Linked DNA regions of Homo sapiens: all the other regions are linked to region 4. Evidence: fine-mapped expression QTL. A gene starts in region 4. Each other region holds a variant in brackets. All regions are shown on one strand. Distances are between the middles of the regions.

Region 1 (4,000 bases), 28 kb after region 4:
GACAATCCTGTGAGGAGGGAGTTATGGTTCTTGATTTATAGACGAACAAACTAAGACAGAGGAGATTGGGCTCATCTGTGGTCATCTCAGCAGTTGTGAGAGGTCAGGGCCAGAGCCCAGTGGTGTCATTCTGCAGGGCACATACAGACACGACCCACAGGGTTCTGCCGCACCCCCTGCCGCTTGGCCTGCTCTGCAGGTGGGTGCCGAGGCTGTTCCTGCATCTGCTGTGTCTTGTGAGTCCGTGGGTGCCTGTGGAGTGGGGGCAGTGGGTTTGCATTTCCAAGCACTGCCTCTGTCATAGGCTCAGGGAGAAGCAGTTACGCATGAGCTGCTATGAGCCACGGGTATGACTGGCATCACAGCAGGAGGAGCCCTGGGGATGGCTGAGTGACGATGGGTGGGGACAGAGCTCACAGAAGCCAGGGTTGCCCCCAGGCCAGGCCACTGCTGGGGCCAAGGCTGGGATGCAGCACGATGTTGGTCTGTCAGGGAGTGGCAGGAAGCCCACAGGGTCAGCTGACACTTAACCCAGAGTGGTGGGAGCCTTGAATGCCAGACTGAGGGCCACACAGTTGGTCTCGGTGCACAAGGACTTGGGCTGAGAGGGCTGTTGCTCCTCAATGGCCATCTCCTTGTGGGAGGAGAGTCCGGGCAGCCGCTTCCAGGAACCCACCCATGCTTGAAATAGTGGGACCACAGGGCTGAGGAGGCTCCTGGGGATTCCTCCCAGGATTCAGCTGCTCTGTCCCCAACCCCGGAGGGCCTATTCGTCTAGCCCTATATCCTCTCTGCCAGTTAGGTCAGGGCAGAGAAGTAGAGGCACAGAGGGTGGCGGAGGGGTGTCCAGCCAGGCCTTTCTGTGGCACCTTCTGAGGCTGGCTGGAGTCTGTGAAATCTGTGATAACTGGCCCAGACCCTTCCTGCCTCCTGGGGCATCTGCTGGAGCTGAGGCTGCTGGGGGAGTCTGCCTGTGACTTGAGTCTCTTGCTGGGCCATGCTGGGCTCAGTTCGCCTGTCTGTGGGGTGGGATGGTGCCACCCTTAGGTTGTTGGGAGGACCCAAGGAGAGTGATGCCTCCAGCCATGGCAGCTGGCCCAGCTCCGGCCCGCAGCCTGGCTCCTTCAGGGCCAGGAACCCCCAGGTCATGGACTCCAACCCTCGGGCTCTCCTGCTTCCCAGGTGACGAAGCTTCAACCCATGGGCTCTCCTTCCTGGGTGTGGAAGCCCTGGAGAAGGTGGAGATGGGATCTCAGTCCAGCCCATTGGCTCCACTTCCTTTGAGAAGCTCTTTCCCCCGTCTTGGCCCCCAGCCCTTGTTCAAGCACCTGTCCCTCTCCTGTCTCCTAGGCCCCGTCAGTCCTTTTGGAGACCTGTTCCCACCCGCCCCTGCTCTCACAGGCTGCCAGTGTCCACACACTCTCAGGCACTGTCATTGGAGCCTTTTAACCACACGGGAAAGCAGGCAGGTTAGGTAACTACCCCCCACCCCCCCGCCAGCAACGCCCCCTGCATACCCAGGGCCTGCACCAGGTGCTGCTGCGCTGCCAGCTCTCT[C/T]GAGGTCCCTCCTCCTAACCTCAATGCATCGCGTCTTCCAGCCCCCGGCTCCGAGGGCTCAGCCTCCAGGTGGTCTAACCTGGAGTCTAAACCTGGATTGCCATCTGCCTGCCTCAGCCCTTCCCTTCCCCAGGGACCGAGGGCCAGTGCGGCTCCCCAGCCACCCATTTTTTGTTTGTTTTGAGACGGAGTCTCGCTCTGTCGCCCAGGCTGGAGTGCAGTGTCCTGATCTCGGCTCACTGCAAGCTCCATCTCCTGGGTTCACGCCATTCTCCTGCCTCAGCCCCCCAAGTAGCTGGGACTACAGGTGCCCGCCACCACACCCGGCTACTTTTTTGTATTTTTAGTAGAGACAGGGTTTCACCATGTTGGCCAGGATGGTCTCGATCTCCTGACCTTCTGATCTGCCCGCCTCGGCCTCCCAAAGTGCTGGGATTACAGGCATGAGCCACTGCACCTGGCTTGTTTGTTTTTATTTTTATTGTTTTTTGAGACGGAATCTTGCTCTATTGCCCAGGCTGGAGTGCAGTGACATAATCTCAGCTCACTGCAACCTCCACCTCCCAGGTTCAAGCGATTCTCTTGCCTCAGCCTCCCAAGTAGCTGGGACTACAGGCACCCACCACCACACCCAGATACATTTTGTATTTTTAGTAGAGATGGGGTTTCACCATGTTGGCCAGGCTGGTTTCGAACTCCTGACCATGAGATGGCGGGCTTGAGCCATCTTCCCGCCTCGGCCTCCCAAAGTGCTGGGATTACAGGCGTGAGCCACGGTGCCCGGCCCCAGCCACCAGTTTTGTACAGCACTCAGGTGGGTGTGGTTCCTGAGGACATGTCACACGAGATCCTTCCGGTCCATTAGCCCACCCCGCCCCATCAGTGGCCAGTGCGGCCATTGTGGGGTCCAGAGTCCCGAGGCAGAACGACTGACTCCAGGTTGTGGAGGGGCCTCTTAGGATCCTTCTAGGCACCCAGGTTGGGCAGGTGCCTCCATGCCTAAGACTGAGCTCCTGGTGGACATCGGGCTGGGTGTGGGCGTCCTGCACACCCTCCCTGTGGCCTGGTGCCCGTGAGGAGTGGACAGTCACCCCGAGAGCATAGACCACCCTCGAGGCTCCCAGATGGCGGCCGCAGAGCCCCACTTCCCTGCCTGGTGTGTGATACCTTCCATGGCTGAGGACACCTCTGACTGCTCACTCCTGTGACCCTGGACCCAAGTGCTGGGCCACACCTGGACTCCAGGCCCCAGTCCTTCCTTCTTCTGCTGTCCTGGCTCCTGGGTGGCCCCCGCCCTCCCCGCTCCGAGGCTCTGCCCTGTGCTGGGAACCCAGGAATTGCCACCCCCTGGCCCCGGTTTCTCATGTCAGGATCTGCTGGCCAGGTTGACTCCTGAGCGCCACTGTCTCCTCAGACTTGCTGGTCCCACCCGGTCCCCACCTGTCCACCGCCCGAGGCTCTCCTGTGAGGCCGCTCTGCAGCTCTTGGCCTGGGGGCCCCCGGCCTCTCATGGTGCCTTCTGCACTGTCCCCTTTGGAGATGGGAGCTTTGAGGGTAGGCGCCACCGTTCGGTGAAAAGGCGGTATAAGCAAAGCAACCCCCAGATACTGAAGGAGCCGGGAAATAAAAGGAGGCAGACAGAGCAAGTGTGTTGGTACCCGCCTATTTACTGGCAGGAACTTACAGACGGAAACATGGCCTCAGGCAGCCTCCAGGCAGGTAGAGCTCTGAACCCAAACGCCCGATCTGGGGCTCGTATCGTGCCCTGGGAGGAATGTGCAGGTGGCTGGGAACGTGGCGGGTGGGGTGGCCAGATTCCTGCTGCAGCACCGGGTTTGTTTAGGAAGAAACGTACGAGGACTAGACACTCTTTTTTTTCTTTCCTGCACGTGAATGCCAGGGAGTAGGTGCTCCTGCAGGAAGATGATGCATCAACCAGCCAGTCTGGAGGCATTCCGAGACCCGGGGTTAATCAGCAGATTAGCATTTAAATAAAGTTACTCTGTCCCCACAGCCAGCTAGGCCCGAGCCACATGGCGGGGGCGGCGGGGGCGGCTGTTCGCCGCATCCCAGGCTTGCTCCATCTCCTCGTCTGCAATGTGGAGGTGACAGTCGTGGTCCTCGGCTAGTGCCACAGGACTGTACGGGACAGATCACCCAGCCCCGTGCCTGCACTGGGGGCGGCGGTGACGTGATGGCCGCGGCGGTGACCTGATGGCCGCAGGTGTGTCCACCCTCTGGTTAGGCCTCTCCTCTCCCTGGGGCGCAACAGGTGTCCTCGGGTGGGAGGTTCAGCTGCTGGGCCTGGGGCCCCAGCTTTCAGCTCCTGTGCAGGCGTGGAGCGGGACGGCACGCCGGGGCGTTCGTTCACACGATGCCCCCAGCTCGTCTCTGCCTGCTCTGTGATGCAGCCTCAGCTCCTGTGGGTCCCGGGTCACCCACC
Region 2 (4,000 bases), 54 kb after region 4:
CCTGGCCTCTTGCCAGCCCTTCCCCAACAGCACCAACTTGCTGCCCACGGAGATCAGCCAGTCCCTGCTGTACCGGGGGCCCGTGGACCCTGCCAACTGGTTTGGGGTGCGGAAAGGGTTCCCCAACCTGGGCTACATCCAGGTGAGTTGAAGGGCTGGTGGGCGGCTGGGCGGGCGAGTACCCGGCTGCCCCCTGACCCTTGCCCTCCGCAGAACCACCTGCAAGTGCTGCTGCTGCTGGTATTCGAGGCCATCGTGTACCGGCGCCAGGAGCACTACCGCCGGCAGCACCAGCTGGCCCCGCTGCCTGCCCAGGCCGTGTTTGCCAGCGGCACCCGCCAGCAGCTGGACCAGGATCTGCTCGGCTGCCTCAAGTACTTCATCAACTTCTTCTTCTACAAATTCGGGCTGGAGGTGAGGCAAGGACATTGCCTCCCCCTGGGGCAGGGCTTGGCCTTCGGGAGGGAGGGACGGCTGCACCGTGCAGGCACCGCAAGCCTGGCCCCACCTGGGTTTGCCTGGGCCACAGAGGGTGGGGGACTCAGGGCCAGGCACGGCTTCCCTGGACTCCTGTGGTGTGTCGGTGCTGACAACAGGCAGGGGGCCAAGTTAGATCTGCTCTACTGTACAGCCCACCTCCTGGAGCCTCAGTTTCCCCTGCACGATGGCAACTGCCAGCCACTCCTGCCCTCTTGACAGCGCCGCTGGCCCTGTCCTTGCTTGATGCCCGCAGCCTCCAGGCAGGGCTGCTGCAAGCCTGAGGCCTGCTGGGTGGGACAAGAAAGTCCCTCCCCCCAGACTCAGTGCATCCCCACACCCCGCCCTCTCCCCTCCCCAGATCTGCTTCCTGATGGCCGTGAACGTGATCGGGCAGCGCATGAACTTTCTGGTGACCCTGCACGGTTGCTGGCTGGTGGCCATCCTCACCCGCAGGCACCGCCAGGCCATTGCCCGCCTCTGGCCCAACTACTGCCTCTTCCTGGCGCTGTTCCTGCTGTACCAGTACCTGCTGTGCCTGGGGATGCCCCCGGCCCTGTGCATTGGTGAGGGGCACGTGGCTTGGGTGGGAGTGGGCTTTGTGGCTTTGTGGATGCCCGTGGGGGTGTTTCCCGCCTGCCCCAGACTCCTGTCCACCCTCCTAGACTTAGCCTTGGCCTCCTCCAGTCCCTCCTCTCTGCTCCACATCCTACCCAGGCGCCATCACCTGCATCCTGTCTCTCGGGGGCGGCCTGGCCCCCTCCAGGCTCTGCTGTTCTCTTTTCCTTTTTTGCCCAGTATTCTATCTTGAAATATTTCAAACCTTCAGGAAAGTTGTGAGTCACACAAGGAGCACTGCGTCCTCTCCGGGCCCCGTGCGGGTCGGCCGTGATGCCTCACACCCAAGTGCTGCCTCGAGCATGCGTCTCCTGGGTGAGGGTGTCTGAGCCCACAGCCCCACACCCGTGGTCCCGTCTCCTGGCAGTGCCATCGTCAAACGTGTCCTCTGCATTCAAACAGCCCCGGCCTCAGCACCCTTCTTTGTGGCCATTTGGTTTTCAGACGGGATCTGGTCTGATGTTTGCTCTAGTCTCTTGTCTTGGGTCTAAGCCGCCCCCGCCTCTCCTGTCTCTTGGGAAGTTCCGGAGGGAGGCCGGTAGCGTTGCTGACGCCGTGAGACTGGATTTGCGTGGCTGTCCTGGTGCTGCAGGTCTGCTCAAGGCACACAGCACCCTGCGGTCTGAGATGGGGAGTCACATTTGTGCACGTGGCCGGCTCAGGGGCGTCCCACCTGCCCCACAGTGGCACCCAGCCTGTTGGCACTGGTGGGCTGTGTGGGGTCAGCCTTGTGGTTTTACGAAACAGACTTTCTCTCTGCTGTCTCTGTGTGTCTGTCAGCTGGGATTCCCATCAAGGACAGCTGCCATTTGTTACTGGCTGCTTTCCAAGAATTCTGTCATCCGCAGACCCTGGGCCTCCCCTCTGCTGAGTGGGTCCTGGCCCCTCCGGCCACACACTGTTACATCATCTCCCCGTATTTGGCTGGGCATGGTGGTTCACGCCTGTGATGCCAGCACTTTGGGAGGCTGAGGCAGGAGCATCCCTTGAGGCCAGGAGTTTGAAACCACTCTGGTCAACATAGCAAGAACCCTTTTTTTTTTTTTTTTTTTTTTTGAGATGGAGTCTTGCTCTGTCACCCAGGCTGGAGTACACTGGCACAATCTCGGCTCACTGCAGCCTCCGCCTCCCGGGTTCAAGCAATTCTCCTGTCTCAGCCTCCCT[C/A]GTGGCTAGGATTACAGGCAAGCACCACCAGGCCCGGCTAATTTTTGTATTTTTAGTAGAGACGGGGTTTCACCATCTTGGCCAGGCTGGTCTTGAACTCCTGACCTCAGGTGATCCACCCGCCTCCCAAATTACAGGCCTCCCTCCTGGGATTACAGGCGTGAGCTGCCACGCCCGGCCCCGTCTTGTTTTCTGCTCCCAGGCGCTGCTGCCTCATCTTCTGCTACCCAGGCCCAGCCTTGTGCTCACAGCCATTGCTCCAGGGAGCCCAATCGAGTTCTAGGAGCGTGAGGTTTAGAGCCCGGGGTCTGGGCGCTGGGTGTGCCTGTTGCTACAGGGCTGCCTCAGCCTCTGGGCCCTCCAGCTCTTCCTTGTTGAAACATCTGCTTTCGAGCATCACCGAGGCCAGCTCCCCGTCTCCTGTCCACCTCTTCCTTGTTGAAATACCTGCTATCAAGCGTCACCTAGGCCAGCTCCCCTTCTTCTGCCTCCTTCCACGCGGCTGCGCCATGCAGTCGCCATCCTGTGAGATCAGCATGTCCTGGGTTCCCCAACATCGAGGGTAACTTTGTTTTTGTATCGTGAGGTTCCCTCTGTGGCAGATGGGGCTGTGGGTTCAGCATGTCCTGGGTTCCCCAGCATCGAGGGTCACTTTGTTTTTGGGTCGCGAGGTTCCCTCTGTGGCAGATGGGGCTGTGGGTTCAGCATGTCCTGGGTTCCCCAGCATCGAGGGTCACTTTGTTTTTGTGTCGCGAGGTTCCCTCTGTGGCAGATGGGGCTGTGGGTTCAGCATGTCCTGGGTTCCCCAGCATCGAGGGTCACTTTGTTTTTGGGTCGCGAGGTTCCCTCTGTGGCAGATGGGGGCTGTGGGTTCAGAATGTCCTGGGTTCCCCAGCATCGAGGGTCACTTTGTTTTTGGGTCACGAGGTTCCCTCTGTGGCAGATGGGGCTGTGGGTTCAGCATGTCCTGGGTTCCCCAGCATCGAGGGTCACTTTGTTTTTGTGTCGCGAGGTTCCCTCTGTGGCAGATGGGGCTGTGAGATCAGCATGTCCTGGGTTCCCCAACATCGAGGGTCACTTTGTTTTTGGGTCGCGAGGTTCCCTCTGTGGCAGATGGGGCTGTGGGTTCAGCATGTCCTGGGTTCCCCAGCATCGAGGGTCACTTTGTTTTTGGGTCGCGAGGTTCCCTCTGTGGCAGATGGGGCTGTGGGTTCAGCATGTCCTGGGTTCCCCAGCATCGAGGGTCACTTTGTTTTTGGGTCGCGAGGTTCCCTCTGTGGCAGATGGGGCTGTGGGTTCAGAATGTCCTGGGTTCCCCAGCATCGAGGGTCACTTTGTTTTTGGGTCGCGAGGTTCCCTCTGTGGCAGATGGGGCTGTGGGTTCAGCATGTCCTGGGTTCCCCAGCATCGAGGGTCACTTTGTTTTTGGGTCACGAGGTTCCCTCTGTGGCAGATGGGGCTGTGGGTTCAGCATGTCCTGGGTTCCCCAACATCGAGGGTCACTTTGTTTTTGGGTCGCGAGGTTCCCTCTGTGGCAGATGGGGCTGTGAGTTCAGCATGTCCTGGGTTCCCCAGCATGGAGGGTCACTTTGTTTTTGTGTCGCAAGGTTCCCTCTGTGGCAGATGGGGCTGTGAGTTCAGCATGTCCTGGGTTCCCCAGCATGGAGGGTCACTTTGTTTTTGTGTCGCGAGGTTCCCTCTGTGGCAGATGGGGCTGTGAGTTCAGCATGTCCTGGGTTCC
Region 3 (4,000 bases), 62 kb after region 4:
GCCACCACGCCCAGCTAATTTTCGTATTTTTAGTAGAGATGGGGTTTCACCATATTGGCCAGGCTGGTCTCGAACCTCTGACTTCAGGTGATCCGCCCGCCTCAGCCTCCCACAGTGCTGGGATTACAGGCGTCAGCCACCGTGCCCGGCCTGTTCTGTTTTTCTAACTCTCACACAGCCTCCTGGGTTTTCCCCGGTCCTCTGCAGTCGGCCCACTCTGCACCCCAGCCCGCGCTGGCTCTGCTCCTCAGCTGCCCTGCCCACCTCTGTCTTGTCCCACCGCGCTGGCCTGTGTCTTGTGCCTGCACTGCTCCCGGCTACTCCGCATGGGAAGGGTGGCTCTCGGGCCTTGGCCCATGCAGGCGGAGGGGGTCTGGCTGGGAGTCTCCCTGCATGGAAGGCTGGCTCTCAGTGCTGCCTGCCCACAGTCATCCACTCCGGGGACTACTTCCTGTTTGAGTCCGACAGTGAGGAAGAGGAGGAGGCTGTTCCTGAAGACCCGAGGCCGTCGGCACAGAGTGCCTTCCAGGTGAGGTGGGAGAGCCCCGTCGGCCCCACTCCAACCACAGAGCTTGTGGTCCTGGACCAGGGCAGCATAGAGGGTGTCAGATGCCCCCAGGGCCTGGGAGCCGAGCTCCTCCACCTCCAGTTAGCCCACCCCGCCCCATCCAGGCCTCCCAAGTCCCATGGGAAACCAGGCTACAGGGACATGGGTCATGTGTAGCCTGCTGCCCCACGGTCTTGGCTCTGACCACCCAGGTTCTGGTGGCTGCCCGTGGCCTGACCTGTGAGACCGGCCCAACACCTTTGTGCTGGCCGCCTGGCTGTCCTGGGTCCATCTTTGGGCCCCTGGCTCTTGGTGTTAGACCAGCCCACCCAACTCCTGAATGGGTGGGAGTCTTCCCCCACAGCCCCTCAGGGTCCCCATCCGGGAGGGGCTCAGGGACACGGAGGTCCCTGGGAGACACAGAGCAGGGATCTGGATCTGGCGCCCGGCTTGCCCAACCCCAGCTTCCCGCCTGGGTCTGATGGCTCGGGAGGCCGGGTCCTAACCCGGGGGCTGGCCGACAGCTGGCGTACCAGGCATGGGTGACCAACGCCCAGGCGGTGCTGAGGCGGCGGCAGCAGGAGCAGGAGCAGGCAAGGCAGGAACAGGCAGGACAGCTACCCACAGGTGAGCTGGGGGGCGTGGGGACTCTGAGGGGAAGCCGCGGGACTGCCAGTCACTCACCAGCATCCTGTGCCCAGGAGGTGGTCCCAGCCAGGAGGTGGAGCCAGCAGAGGGCCCCGAGGAGGCAGCGGCAGGTACGTGGGCCCGGGGCTGGGGAGTGGGAGGTCTCTCTTGGCCCCACAGGCTGCCCCTCCAGCGCCCCCTCCCGCCCTCCCGCAGGCCGGAGCCATGTGGTGCAGAGGGTGCTGAGCACGGCGCAGTTCCTGTGGATGCTGGGGCAGGCGCTAGTGGATGAGCTGACACGCTGGCTGCAGGAGTTCACCCGGCACCACGGCACCATGAGCGACGTGCTGCGGGCAGAGCGCTACCTCCTCACACAGGAGCTCCTGCAGGTGAGCCTGCCCGTGCACCACGCTCGTCCCTGCTCTGCCTGACTACGCCCCTGCCTGCTTAACAGCCTAGTCCCGCGCCCACTGCACGAAACCCCGTGTGGGGACAAGAGCTGGACGCAGCCCTGAGCCCCCTGCTGTGCCCTGCAGGGCGGCGAAGTGCACAGGGGCGTGCTGGATCAGCTGTACACAAGCCAGGCCGAGGCCACGCTGCCAGGCCCCACCGAGGCCCCCAATGCCCCAAGCACCGTGTCCAGGTAGGTGCGGGGGTGACCCGAGCCCCAGCTGCTGCCCCTGGTGTGTGGGCATCGCC[T/C]AGCCATCCCCGACCCTCGCCATTCCCTTGTACCCCAAAGGACCGTGGGCACTTTCCACCCTGACCCTCCCTGTAGCCTGGGGTCAGGCCATAGAGCAGGATTCTCTGTGACTCGGCTTCCCTCCCCAGTGGGCTGGGCGCGGAGGAGCCACTCAGCAGCATGACAGACGACATGGGCAGCCCCCTGAGCACCGGCTACCACACGCGCAGTGGCAGTGAGGAGGCAGTCACCGACCCCGGGGAGCGTGAGGCTGGTGCCTCTCTGTACCAGGGACTGATGCGGACGGCCAGCGAGCTGCTCCTGGACAGGTGGGGGCGGGACGCGCACAACACCAGCCTCACCATGGCCCTCGGGGAGCAGCCGAACAGGGGCAGGAGACTGACTGTGACCGGCAACAGATCGGGCCGTCATGCCTTCGGGCAGTCCCAGACTCCCCCAAACACGCGGGTCTCCCTGTAGGCGCCTGCGCATCCCAGAGCTGGAGGAGGCAGAGCTGTTTGCGGAGGGGCAGGGCCGGGCGCTGCGGCTGCTGCGGGCCGTGTACCAGTGTGTGGCCGCCCACTCGGAGCTGCTCTGCTACTTCATCATCATCCTCAACCACATGGTCACGGCCTCCGCCGGCTCGCTGGTGCTGCCCGTGCTCGTCTTCCTGTGGGCCATGCTGTCGATCCCGAGGCCCAGCAAGCGCTTCTGGATGACGGCCATCGTCTTCACCGAGGTGGGCCGAGGCCGCGGGGGAGGGGGCGCCCGGCCCACCGCGCCGTGACCCTCCCCGCGTGCTGAGCCCCCTCCCCCACAGATCGCGGTGGTCGTCAAGTACCTGTTCCAGTTTGGGTTCTTCCCCTGGAACAGCCACGTGGTGCTGCGGCGCTACGAGAACAAGCCCTACTTCCCGCCCCGCATCCTGGGCCTGGAGAAGACTGACGGCTACATCAAGTACGACCTGGTGCAGCTCATGGCCCTTTTCTTCCACCGCTCCCAGCTGCTGGTGAGTGTGAGCCTTGGCTGGCAATGCGGGGCTGGGCAGGCCCTCTGGGCACCTGTGCTCTCCACCAGGGAGGCAAGGCCCCCTCACCACACCCTCCCGCCCCTCAGTGCTATGGCCTCTGGGACCATGAGGAGGACTCACCATCCAAGGAGCATGACAAGAGCGGCGAGGAGGAGCAGGGAGCCGAGGAGGGGCCAGGGGTGCCTGCGGCCACCACCGAAGACCACATTCAGGTGGAAGCCAGGGTCGGACCCACGGACGGGACCCCAGAACCCCAAGTGGAGCTCAGGCCCCGTGATACGAGGCGCATCAGTCTACGTTTTAGAAGAAGGAAGAAGGAGGGCCCAGCACGGAAAGGAGCGGCAGCCATCGGTATAAGCGCCCTGCCTCACAACCTCCTGCCTACCCAGTTTTCTGAGTGGGGCTACTGCAGGGAGGGTCTTTCTCAGATGAGACGGCCAAGCCCAGTGCGAGGCCCACCTGGATCCCAGGAAGGTGCCACTTCTGAGCCACAGCTCCCGGCTCTGCCTACAGAGCCGTCCCTGACTGCTGCCCCCGGGGATGCTCCCCACGTGTAGGGTGACTGTTGGCCTGGGCTGGCCCCTCACAGTTGCCCCAGACAGAGGACACAGCCCCAGCTGTCTCCTTGCCAGTGACACTGGGAGCTTTCCTGTGCTCCGTCTGCTTGTCTGTCAAACAGGGAGAATGCCAGCCTCTTAGGGTGGTCAGGAGCCATGAGCCAGGCCCAGTCCCCAGGGGGCCCAGGCAGAAGTCAGCTTTTCCCTACAGAAGCTGAGGACAGGGAGGAAGAAGAGGGGGAGGAAGAGAAAGAGGCCCCCACGGGGAGAGAGAAGAGGCCAAGCCGCTCTGGAGGAAGAGTAAGGGCGGCCGGGCGGCGGCTGCAGGGCTTCTGCCTGTCCCTGTGAGTGATGGCGGCCGGGGGCAGCTGGGGAGTGGGGGTGGGGAGGCGGGTACTGGGCCCAGGCTGAGCGCCCCCTTCCGCAGGGCCCAGGGCACATATCGGCCGCTACGGCGCTTCTTCCACGACATCCTGCACACCAAGTACCGCGCAGCCACCGACGTCTATGCCCTCATGTTCCTGGCTGATGTTGTCGACTTCATCATCATCATTTTTGGC
Region 4 (4,000 bases):
AGTGCTGGGATTACAGGCGTGAGCCACCGCACCCGGCCTATATCAGCCTTTAAACACTAGACTTCCCATGAAAATCTCCATTTCTGGGTGGTTTTTTTTTTTTTAATGGAGTTTCGTTCTTGTCACTCAGGCTGGAGTGCAATGGCATGATCTCGGCTCACGGCAACCTCTGCCTCCCAGGTTCAAGCGATTTTCCTGCCTCGGCCTCCTGAGTAGTTGGGAATACAGGCGCCTGCCATCACGCCCGGCTAATTTTTGTATATTTATTTATTTATTTATTTATTTATTTATTTATTTATTGAGACGGAGTCTGGCTCTGTCGCCCAGGCTGGAGTGCAGTGGCGCTATCTCGGCTCACTGCAAGCTCCGCCTCCTGGGTTGATGCCATTCTCCTGCCTCAGCCTCCCGAGTAGTTGGGACTACAGGAGCCCGCCACCACGCCCGGCTAATTTTTTATGTTTTTAGTAGAGATGGGTTTTCACCGTGTTAGCCAGGATGGTCTCGATCTCCTGACCTGGTGATCCACCCGCCTCGGCCTCCCAAAGTGCTGGGATTACAGGCGTGAGCCACCGCGCCCGGCCTAATTTTTGTATTTTTAGTAGAGACGGGGTTTCACCATGTTGGCCAGGCTGGTCTCGAACTCCTGACGTCAAGTGATCCCCCGACCCCCTACCCCCTTGCCTCAGCCCCGCAAAGTGCTGGGATTACAGGCCTGAGCCACTGCCCCGCCATCTTTTTTTTTTTTTTTTTTTTTTGAGCTGGAGGGTGTGGGCTTGTGCTGGGCTCTCATGAGTTGCCAGTGCCTTGAGGCTCAGTGGCCACAGTCCCCCCAGCCCCACTCCCTGCCTTACGCAGCTGAGTTTGAGAGCCATGAACTGAGCCCAATTAAACGGTGTAGAGCCCTTTGCCCTCTTTCTGTGCCCATCTCAAGGGCAGACGAAGGCCAAACTGACGTGGCCTGGGTGAGGGTCCCGAACACCCTGGACTCAGACCCTACCTCTCCGTGGCAGGGCGCCGCGGCAGCAGGTGCACAGGCCGTGGCTCTCACTCTCACCGTCTCACGCCAGAGCGACCCGGGCAAAGCCGCGCGCGGTGGCCGGCGTGGCTGGGAGCAGCCCCCGAGCCCCCGTCAGACCAACGCGGATCGCGGCACTGCTGCGACCCGAGCATCCCGCGTGCTCCCTCCGGGACCACTAGGCCCGGCCGCCGCGGGAACTCCGAGCCTCCCCACGGTCCCCAGGGGGCGCTGCGTGCTCGCGCCTCGGGGAGCAAAGCGAAAGTCGCTCGGGCACGCGGGGTGCAGTTGCGCGTGGGGCGCTGCCTGGGGGAGCCAGAGGCCCCGGGACCCCTTATGTAGCGCCCGGGCCCCAGCCGCAGCCCACCCAGCGAGAAGCGCCCCTGCCCACCGCCGCGCACGCTCGGAGCCGCGGGGCCAAGACTGCGGGAGGGGAGGGGTCCGCTCCGGGCCAGCGCCAGTCGGGGGTCTCCAGGCCCCAACGCACCAGGGCGGGCCGGAGGCGGGACGGGCCGCGCGGGACAGCGGAGGGGGTGCCTGGGCGCGCCGGGCCGTCGGGGAAGCGCGGAGGCGGGCACGCCGGGGAGGGCGGGAGGGGGCCGAGCTTATAAAGGCCCGCGGGCGGAGGAGGGCGGGAGCCGCCGTCCGGCCCAGCTCGGCCCCAGTGAGCCGAGCGCTGCGCTCCGCCGAGGGGCAGGGCGGTCGCCTGAGCGAGCGCGGGCCCGGGACGTCGGCACCGGCGGGGCGGCCGAAGGAGAAGGAGGAAGAGGAGAAGGCGGCGCGCGGGTCCCCGCGGGTCAGCCATGGCGCGCCGGCCCCGGGGCCCCCGCACCGCCCCATAGCGCCGCGGCGTCCGCTCGGTCTGGGCCGGGCCCTGGGCCCTCCAGCCATGGAGCCGCACGTGCTCGGCGCGGTCCTGTACTGGCTGCTGCTGCCCTGCGCGCTGCTGGCTGGTGAGTGGGGGGCGGGCGCCTGGGGGCGACGGGAGGGGGCTGCGTCTCGGCTCCCCACGGCCTGGACACCGGACGACGCCGGCCGGGGCGAGGGCTGCGGGCGAGCGGGCGCGGAAATTCCCAGGGACGCGCGACCCGGGCGCCCGCATTCCTGAAGCATGAGCGCGCCAGGCGGCGGCGGGGCTCCTGTCCCAGGGCCGGGCTGGAAGGGCGGCGGCGGCTGGGGGAGACGGCACCGCGTGCCCACGGGGGCGGTCGAGCGAGCGCCGGGCATAGCGCGGCTGGCGTCTCCGCCGGGGCGCTGCGGAGAGGAGGCCGCCGGGCGAGGCGGTGTTTGCCCCGGTGGGAAGGGCCGCGGCGGTGGTGGGGGGAGCACGAATCTCTTTTTCTCTTTCGGGTTTAAAAAAAAAAGCGCAAAGTTGCATCAGGACTTCCTGACAATCTGGGAGAAGGCGGGCTTCCTGCCTGGAGCTGTTTAATTTGGAGCTTCCCGAGCCCAACGAACGTCCGTGCCCAGGGCCCAGCCCCGCTCACCGCTGCACCCCCCTCTGCCGGACTGAGGCGGTCCCACACTTTGGAAAAAAATAGTGTGGGTTCCTCCCTGGTCCTCCCTTGCCCTACTGGGCTCAGTTTCGCAGGGGCGGGGGCCGGCCTCTGCCCTGGTCTGGGGGAGGGGACACCCCCGGAGGCTGTGGCCTGGTGTCAGGGCGGGGCAGGGGTCCCCAGTCCTGGCATCTGTGTTCCCTGCTTGCCGGGCAGTGGTGCCCCTTTCGCGAAGCACACCCGGGTGGCTTGGTGCTGCACGGCCTGGCACCCCTACCCTTCCCCGACCCTGGCCTAGCCGGGACCCAGGGTCCGCGCCCTCCGCCCGGGGGCTCCCCACGTGTGATTGATCTGGGAAGCAGTCGGATGGAATTAACCCACGGACAAGTGGGACGGTTTGCATTGGGAGTCCGCCATGGACACGGCAGGTGGGGCCTTTTGATTGTAAAAGCCCTTTCGGAGCCCTTGCCTCGCTCCAGGTGGGAGCTCGCCCAGCGCTAGCTTTGGGGATCTAGAGCCGCCTGCCTGAGGCTCCCAGACAGACTGCGTTTTGATCGGTCGCACAGAAAGGTGGTGAAACTTGGGGAAGATTTTCTAGACAGGAATCAATGAAAACCATTGAGGCTGGAGAGGAGAGGTTTTGAGCAACTCTCTTCAGTGCGGTCAGCCCTGTGTGGACTGGGCAGCCTGGGACCTGCTCCCAGTGCAGGGTCAGATGGGCCGTAAACAGGGCCCGGCTGTGTTCCTTCCTGTGCCTTGAAAACAAGCAGGACAGCCTGGCACAGAGGCAGAGTCTAGAGCTGACAGGCCTTAGAGAGGGAAACAGGAAAGCTTCTGAAACGTCCCGTTCACACTGATCGTTCCATTTCCTCTTGTGTCTGAGTGGGAGCGGGTGTCCTCCCTGCAGGGAATGCCCCCCCTCTCAGATGGCAGCTGCTCCTTGGGCAGAGTTGGCAATGTTTTTCTTTAAATGACCAGATGGTAAATATTTTCATGTCACAAAATCTTCTTCTTCTGGTATTTTTCCAGCCATTAAATGTAAAAGCCCTCCTGAGTTCATGGGCTGTACCTAAACAGGTGTTGAGCCCGATTCTGTGGCACATGTGGTTTGCTGCCCCCTGGGCATTGGTCAGGGGGCCTGGGTTCTGCCTTCTCGATTGCTATCCGCGTGGGGGATCTGGGGGAGGGATCACTGTTCTTCTTGCTTTTGGCCTCCTTGGGGAGGATGGGGAGGTAGCCCAGGGGTGCTCACCCAGGCCCCGTGTCAGTCTTCTATGAAACTTTTAAAGAATAGTGATGACTGACTGTCTGTCTGTATGGTACTTTCCTTAAACCTAAAACTGGTCCCAAATAAAGTCTCTTAATTTGAAAGATGCTGAAGCCCGGGCCATACCCCACACTGATTCTGTGTCTGGGGATGGGGCGTGGGGCCTGGGCCTCACTCAGTGTTTTCTCTCAGTCACCTGGGGGAGATGGAAGTGGAGCCGGC
Region 5 (4,201 bases), 230 kb after region 4:
AAAAAAAAAAGGGCAGGGAACACCAGGGGGCCCAGGGGAGTCAAGGTGCCTGTGAGTGTCCCCAGCAGCCCACCTCTCCTCCCCTCCCCCCAGCCTGCAGGCCCCGGAAGCACAGGGCTGTGCCCTGGAGAAGTCTGGAGTGACTTTTAAAACACAGATATGGGGACCCATCCGATTCTGAGTTTCTGGCCAACAGCGCTCCGTGTGGTTCAGAAGTTGTATTGTTTCAGGACGGAAGCAAAGTCCAGCTAACAGCTGTCAAGGGCTGGCCTCTTGCTGGGGCCTTGGGCCCGACTTTCTCCTTTGCTCCTCCCAAAGGCGCTGGGAAGCAGGGTGCTGATGGTAAAAAATGAAGCTCAGAGAGTTTCAGTGCCGAACTCAACATTGCACGACCAGGCACAGGAGGGCACGGGACTCACAGCTCCGGAGCTTGAGGGGACGCGGGACTCACAGCACCGGAGCACGGGAGGGCATGGGACTCACACTCCCAGAGAACGGGAAGACAGGGGACTCACACCCCCAGAGAATGGGAGGACACGGGACTCACACCACCATAGCACAGGAGGGCATGGGACTTACAGCGCTGGTCCATGGGAGACGCGGGACTCACACCCCCAGAGAATGGGAGGATGCAGGACTCACACCCCCAGAGTACAGGGGGACATGGGACTCACACCCCTGGAGCATGGGGGGATGCGGGACTCACACCCCCAGGGAACGGGAGGATGCGGGACTCACACCACCAGGGAACGGGAGGATGCCTGACTCACACCCCCAGGGAACGGGAGGACGCAGGACTCACACCCCCAGAGCACGGGGGGAACGCGGGACTCACCCCCCCGGAGCACCGGGGGACGCGGGACTCACCCCCCCGGAGCACGGGGGGACGCGGGACTCACCCCCCCGGAGCACGGGGGGACGCGGGACTCACCCCCCCGGAGCACGGGGGGACGGGCGACTCACCCCCCGACGGGGGGATGCGCGACTCACACCCCCGGAGCATGGGGGGACGCGGGACTCACCGCACATCTTTAACTCCTAATCCCATCTGCTGGGGAGGCTGCGGCAGGATGAACGCTTGAACCCAGGAGGCAGAGGTTGCAGTGAGCTGAGATCGCGCCACTGCACTCCAGCCTGGGCGACAGAGCGAGACTCTTTTGTCATTTCCCTTTTTACTCAATGGCTACTTTGGTTTTTCTTTTCTTTTTTTTTTTTGAGATGGAGAGCTGGAGTGCAGTGGCACGATCTCTGCTCACTTGAACCTCCGCCTTTTATGTATTTTCAGTAGAGAGAGGTCTAGAAGGCTCAGCTGCAGCCGCCTGCCCCGCAGGGCATTCCTGGCCCAGAAAGGGTAAAATCAGACTCTAAACTCATTCAGCTGAGTGGCTTGTCCTGGGTCTGCTGTAACAAGTGACACCAATGGGCGGCTTAAAGCCACAGAAGCTGGCTGGGCACAGTGGCTACACCTGCAATCCCAGCACTTGGGAGGCTGAAGCGGGAGGATTGCTTGAAGCCAGGAGTTCAAGTCCTGGCTGGGCAGCATAGTGATACCCCCATCTCTAAAAAAAGATGGTGCACGCCTGTAGTTCCAGCTACTCTGGAGGCTGAGGTGGGAGGCTTGCTTCAGCCCAGGAGGTCGAGGCTACAGTGAGCCGTGATTGCACCACTGTCTCAAACGACAACAATAGTGACAACAAAAACACTCAGAAACATATCGCCTCACAGTTCCGTAGGCCAGATGTCTGATAGCAGAGTCATGAAGTGGAACTCGAGGCACGGGCAGGGCTGCAGGCTGCAGGGAAGGCTCCCCACGGCCTCTTCCAGGTTCCCAGGCCTCAGGCATCCGTGGCTCCCGTGCCTTGAGGCTGCATAGCTCCTGCTCTGCCTCTGTGGTCCCACGCCTCTCCTCTTCCATCTGTGTCCAATCTCCCTCTGCCTCCCTCTCAGGAGAACTCATGATCACGTCGGGTCTGTCCAGATGCCTTCTTTCTCTCCATCTTTAACTCAATCATGTCTGCAAAGACCTTTCTTCCATTCTTCCACATACAGTCACGTTCACAGGGTTAGGGTTAGGGACATGGATGTCTTTTTTTTTTTTGAGACGGAGTCTTGCCTGTGACCCAGGCTGGAG[T/A]GCAGTGGTGTGATCTCGGCTCACTGCAAGCTCCGCCTCCCGGGTTCACGCCATTCTCCTACCTCAGCCTCCCAAGTAGCTGGGACTACAGGCGCCTGCCACCACGCCCAGCTAATTTTTTGTATTTTTAGTGGAGACAGGGTTTCACTGTGTTAGCCAGGATGGTTTCGATCTCCTGACCTTGTGATCTGCCCGCCTCGGCCTCCCAAAGTGCTGGGATTACAGGCTTGAGCCACCACGCCCGGCCAGGGCACCCAGCCATTTTCAGTGGCCACATCACGTGTGAGTGAGGGGACCAGTTTCTGAGCGGGGACCCTGGTTTCTGAGCCCCCGTGGTGTGCTCAGTCCTTGTGAGGTTATGGTGAGGTAAGAATAGTGGCCCCCAGCGTGGAGCCTGTTTCCATTTCTCTTTTTCTCCTTCTAAGGCAGTACAGGCGGCCCAGCTGTGCCCTCCCGAGCAGGTGAGGCTGGCTGAACCCTCTGGGTTTTCCATCCTTGCCTGTAAGTAGAGCTGAAAACAGCACTTTCGCCCAGGTGCTAGGAAACGAGATGCTGTGTGTAAAGTGACTGGTGGCTGCCTGGCCTGGTGGTAAAGGTCCCGGAAATGGGTGACTGTGTGAGTCCAGGCTCACACTGCTCTAAAGAACTACTGGAGACTGGGTCATTTATGAAGAAAGAGGTTTAATTGGCTCACAGTTCCACAGGCTGTGTAGGAAGCATGGCTGGGAGTCCTCAGGAAACTCACAATCATGGTGGAAGGTGAAGGGGAAGCAGGCACGTCCTCACATGGCGGCAGGAGAGAGAGAGAGAAAGTGGGGGGCGGGGGAAGTGCCGCATAGTTTAAAACCATCAGATCTCGTGAGAACTCACTATCTGAGAATAGTGAGGGGGAAATCCACCCCCGTGATCCAGTCACCTCCCACCAGGCCCCTCCCCTAACCTTGGGAATGACAATTCGACATGAGATCTGGATGGGGACACAGAGCCAAACCACATCAGTGGCTTTAGGGAGATCTGAGTAGCAATGAAGGCATGGCCCGCTTGGGAGAAAGTGTCTGCAGGAAGCGCCTTGTGAATTCTGCGGTGCTCACCATGGGCTGGGCGGGTTTTCAGTGGGGGCAGCAGGGCCTTGGAGATGGGGCCACACTCTGGGGAACCCTTTGGGTCGGGGAGTGAGCCCCGCTCTGTCTAGACATAGGCAGTCCCAGCACAGCAGAGGGCGGTCCTTAGGTCCGGAAGGGGGCACAGTCAGGCGCGAATTCTGGGCCCTGAGCTGGGGCCATCATCTCCTCCCGAGAGAGAGCACAGGTGCCATTGCAGGTGCTGCTAGGGTGCTGCGTGCCCTCCGAGCTTGGCGACGCTCCACTGAGCTGTGTGAGTCTCCGTCCTGGGCTCCGTGGAGACCAGGATGATAATAAGATGAGGACCAGTGGCTTCCAGGAGCCCCAGTCTTAGAGGTGGAGACAAAGAGCTGTGGAGGGGCTGGGGGTGGAGAGGAGCCAGGGGGTGGGCAGAGGGGGTGGGGATGGGGCGGGAGGCATGGAAGGGGCAGGGGAGAGACGAAGGGCCACTGGAGCCACATTAAGACAGAGGGGAAGTGTTAAGACTTGGAGCTGAAAATGCTGGGAATTAAGCGGAAATTCTGCTAAAAGTTTATGGTAACACACTGGGATGGGGGCCGGGTGCAATGGCTCATGCCTGTAATCCCAGCACTTTGGGAGGCTGAGGCAGGCAGATCACTTGAGGTCAAGAGTTCAAGACCAGCCTGGCCAACATGGCGAAACCCTGTCTCTACTTAAAACAAAAAATTAGCTGAGTGTGGTGGTATGCGCCTGTAATCCCAGCTACTTGGGAGACTGAGGCAGGAGGATCGCTTGAACCCTGGAGGCGGAGGTTGGAGTGAGCCGAGATCGCCTCACTGCACTGCAGCCTGGGTGACAAGAGTGAAACTCTATCAAAAAAAAAAAAAAAAGAAAGCCAAAAATGCTGAGAATTAAGGCAAAATTCTGCTAAAAGGTTATGATAACACCTGGGATGGGAAAGGTCAGGCGTGCAGGATGAGGCCCGAGG

Evidence for each region. PIP is the estimated chance that this variant, and not a neighbour inherited with it, causes the effect.
Region 1: its variant is the best candidate, but not a certain one, in a credible set for the expression of PIEZO1 in whole blood (INTERVAL, PIP 0.67).
Region 2: its variant is the best candidate, but not a certain one, in a credible set for the expression of PIEZO1 in left ventricle (GTEx, PIP 0.50).
Region 3: its variant is the best candidate, but not a certain one, in a credible set for the expression of PIEZO1 in stomach (GTEx, PIP 0.87).
Region 5: its variant is the best candidate, but not a certain one, in a credible set for the expression of PIEZO1 in whole blood (INTERVAL, PIP 0.55).

The regions. Positions count from the first base shown.
Region 1 is chr16:88,754,815-88,758,814 of GRCh38, reverse strand. The region is part of intron 1 of PIEZO1 (piezo type mechanosensitive ion channel component 1 (Er blood group)); the gene reads left to right. Among named protein-coding and RNA genes, the nearest start is that of PIEZO1-AS1, 14 kb to the right of the region's middle. The variant C/T (reference allele first, on the strand shown) is at 1,558.
Region 2 is chr16:88,728,749-88,732,748 of GRCh38, reverse strand. PIEZO1 (piezo type mechanosensitive ion channel component 1 (Er blood group)) reads left to right here. Exons shown (of 51, transcript NM_001142864.4): 20 at 17-142; 21 at 214-414; 22 at 839-1,043. It overlaps HSALR1 (HSP90AB1 associated lncRNA 1), which reads right to left and starts at 1,569. Exons shown (of 3, transcript NR_103774.1): 1 at 1,301-1,569. The variant C/A (reference allele first, on the strand shown) is at 2,260.
Region 3 is chr16:88,720,400-88,724,399 of GRCh38, reverse strand. PIEZO1 (piezo type mechanosensitive ion channel component 1 (Er blood group)) reads left to right here. Exons shown (of 51, transcript NM_001142864.4): 31 at 429-529; 32 at 1,072-1,174; 33 at 1,249-1,305; 34 at 1,391-1,563; 35 at 1,711-1,817; 36 at 2,003-2,182; 37 at 2,334-2,592; 38 at 2,674-2,862; 39 at 2,970-3,234; 40 at 3,652-3,784; 41 at 3,868-4,000. Among named protein-coding and RNA genes, the nearest start is that of MIR4722, 6.1 kb to the right of the region's middle. The variant T/C (reference allele first, on the strand shown) is at 1,874.
Region 4 is chr16:88,782,869-88,786,868 of GRCh38, reverse strand. PIEZO1 (piezo type mechanosensitive ion channel component 1 (Er blood group)) reads left to right here and starts at 1,649. Exons shown (of 51, transcript NM_001142864.4): 1 at 1,649-1,968. The coding sequence starts at 1,905. RefSeq lists silencers at 1,151-1,480, 1,521-2,000, 2,501-2,820 and an enhancer at 1,505-2,418.
Region 5 is chr16:88,555,222-88,559,422 of GRCh38, reverse strand. No RefSeq gene overlaps it. Among named protein-coding and RNA genes, the nearest start is that of ZC3H18-DT, 4.7 kb to the left of the region's middle. The variant T/A (reference allele first, on the strand shown) is at 2,132.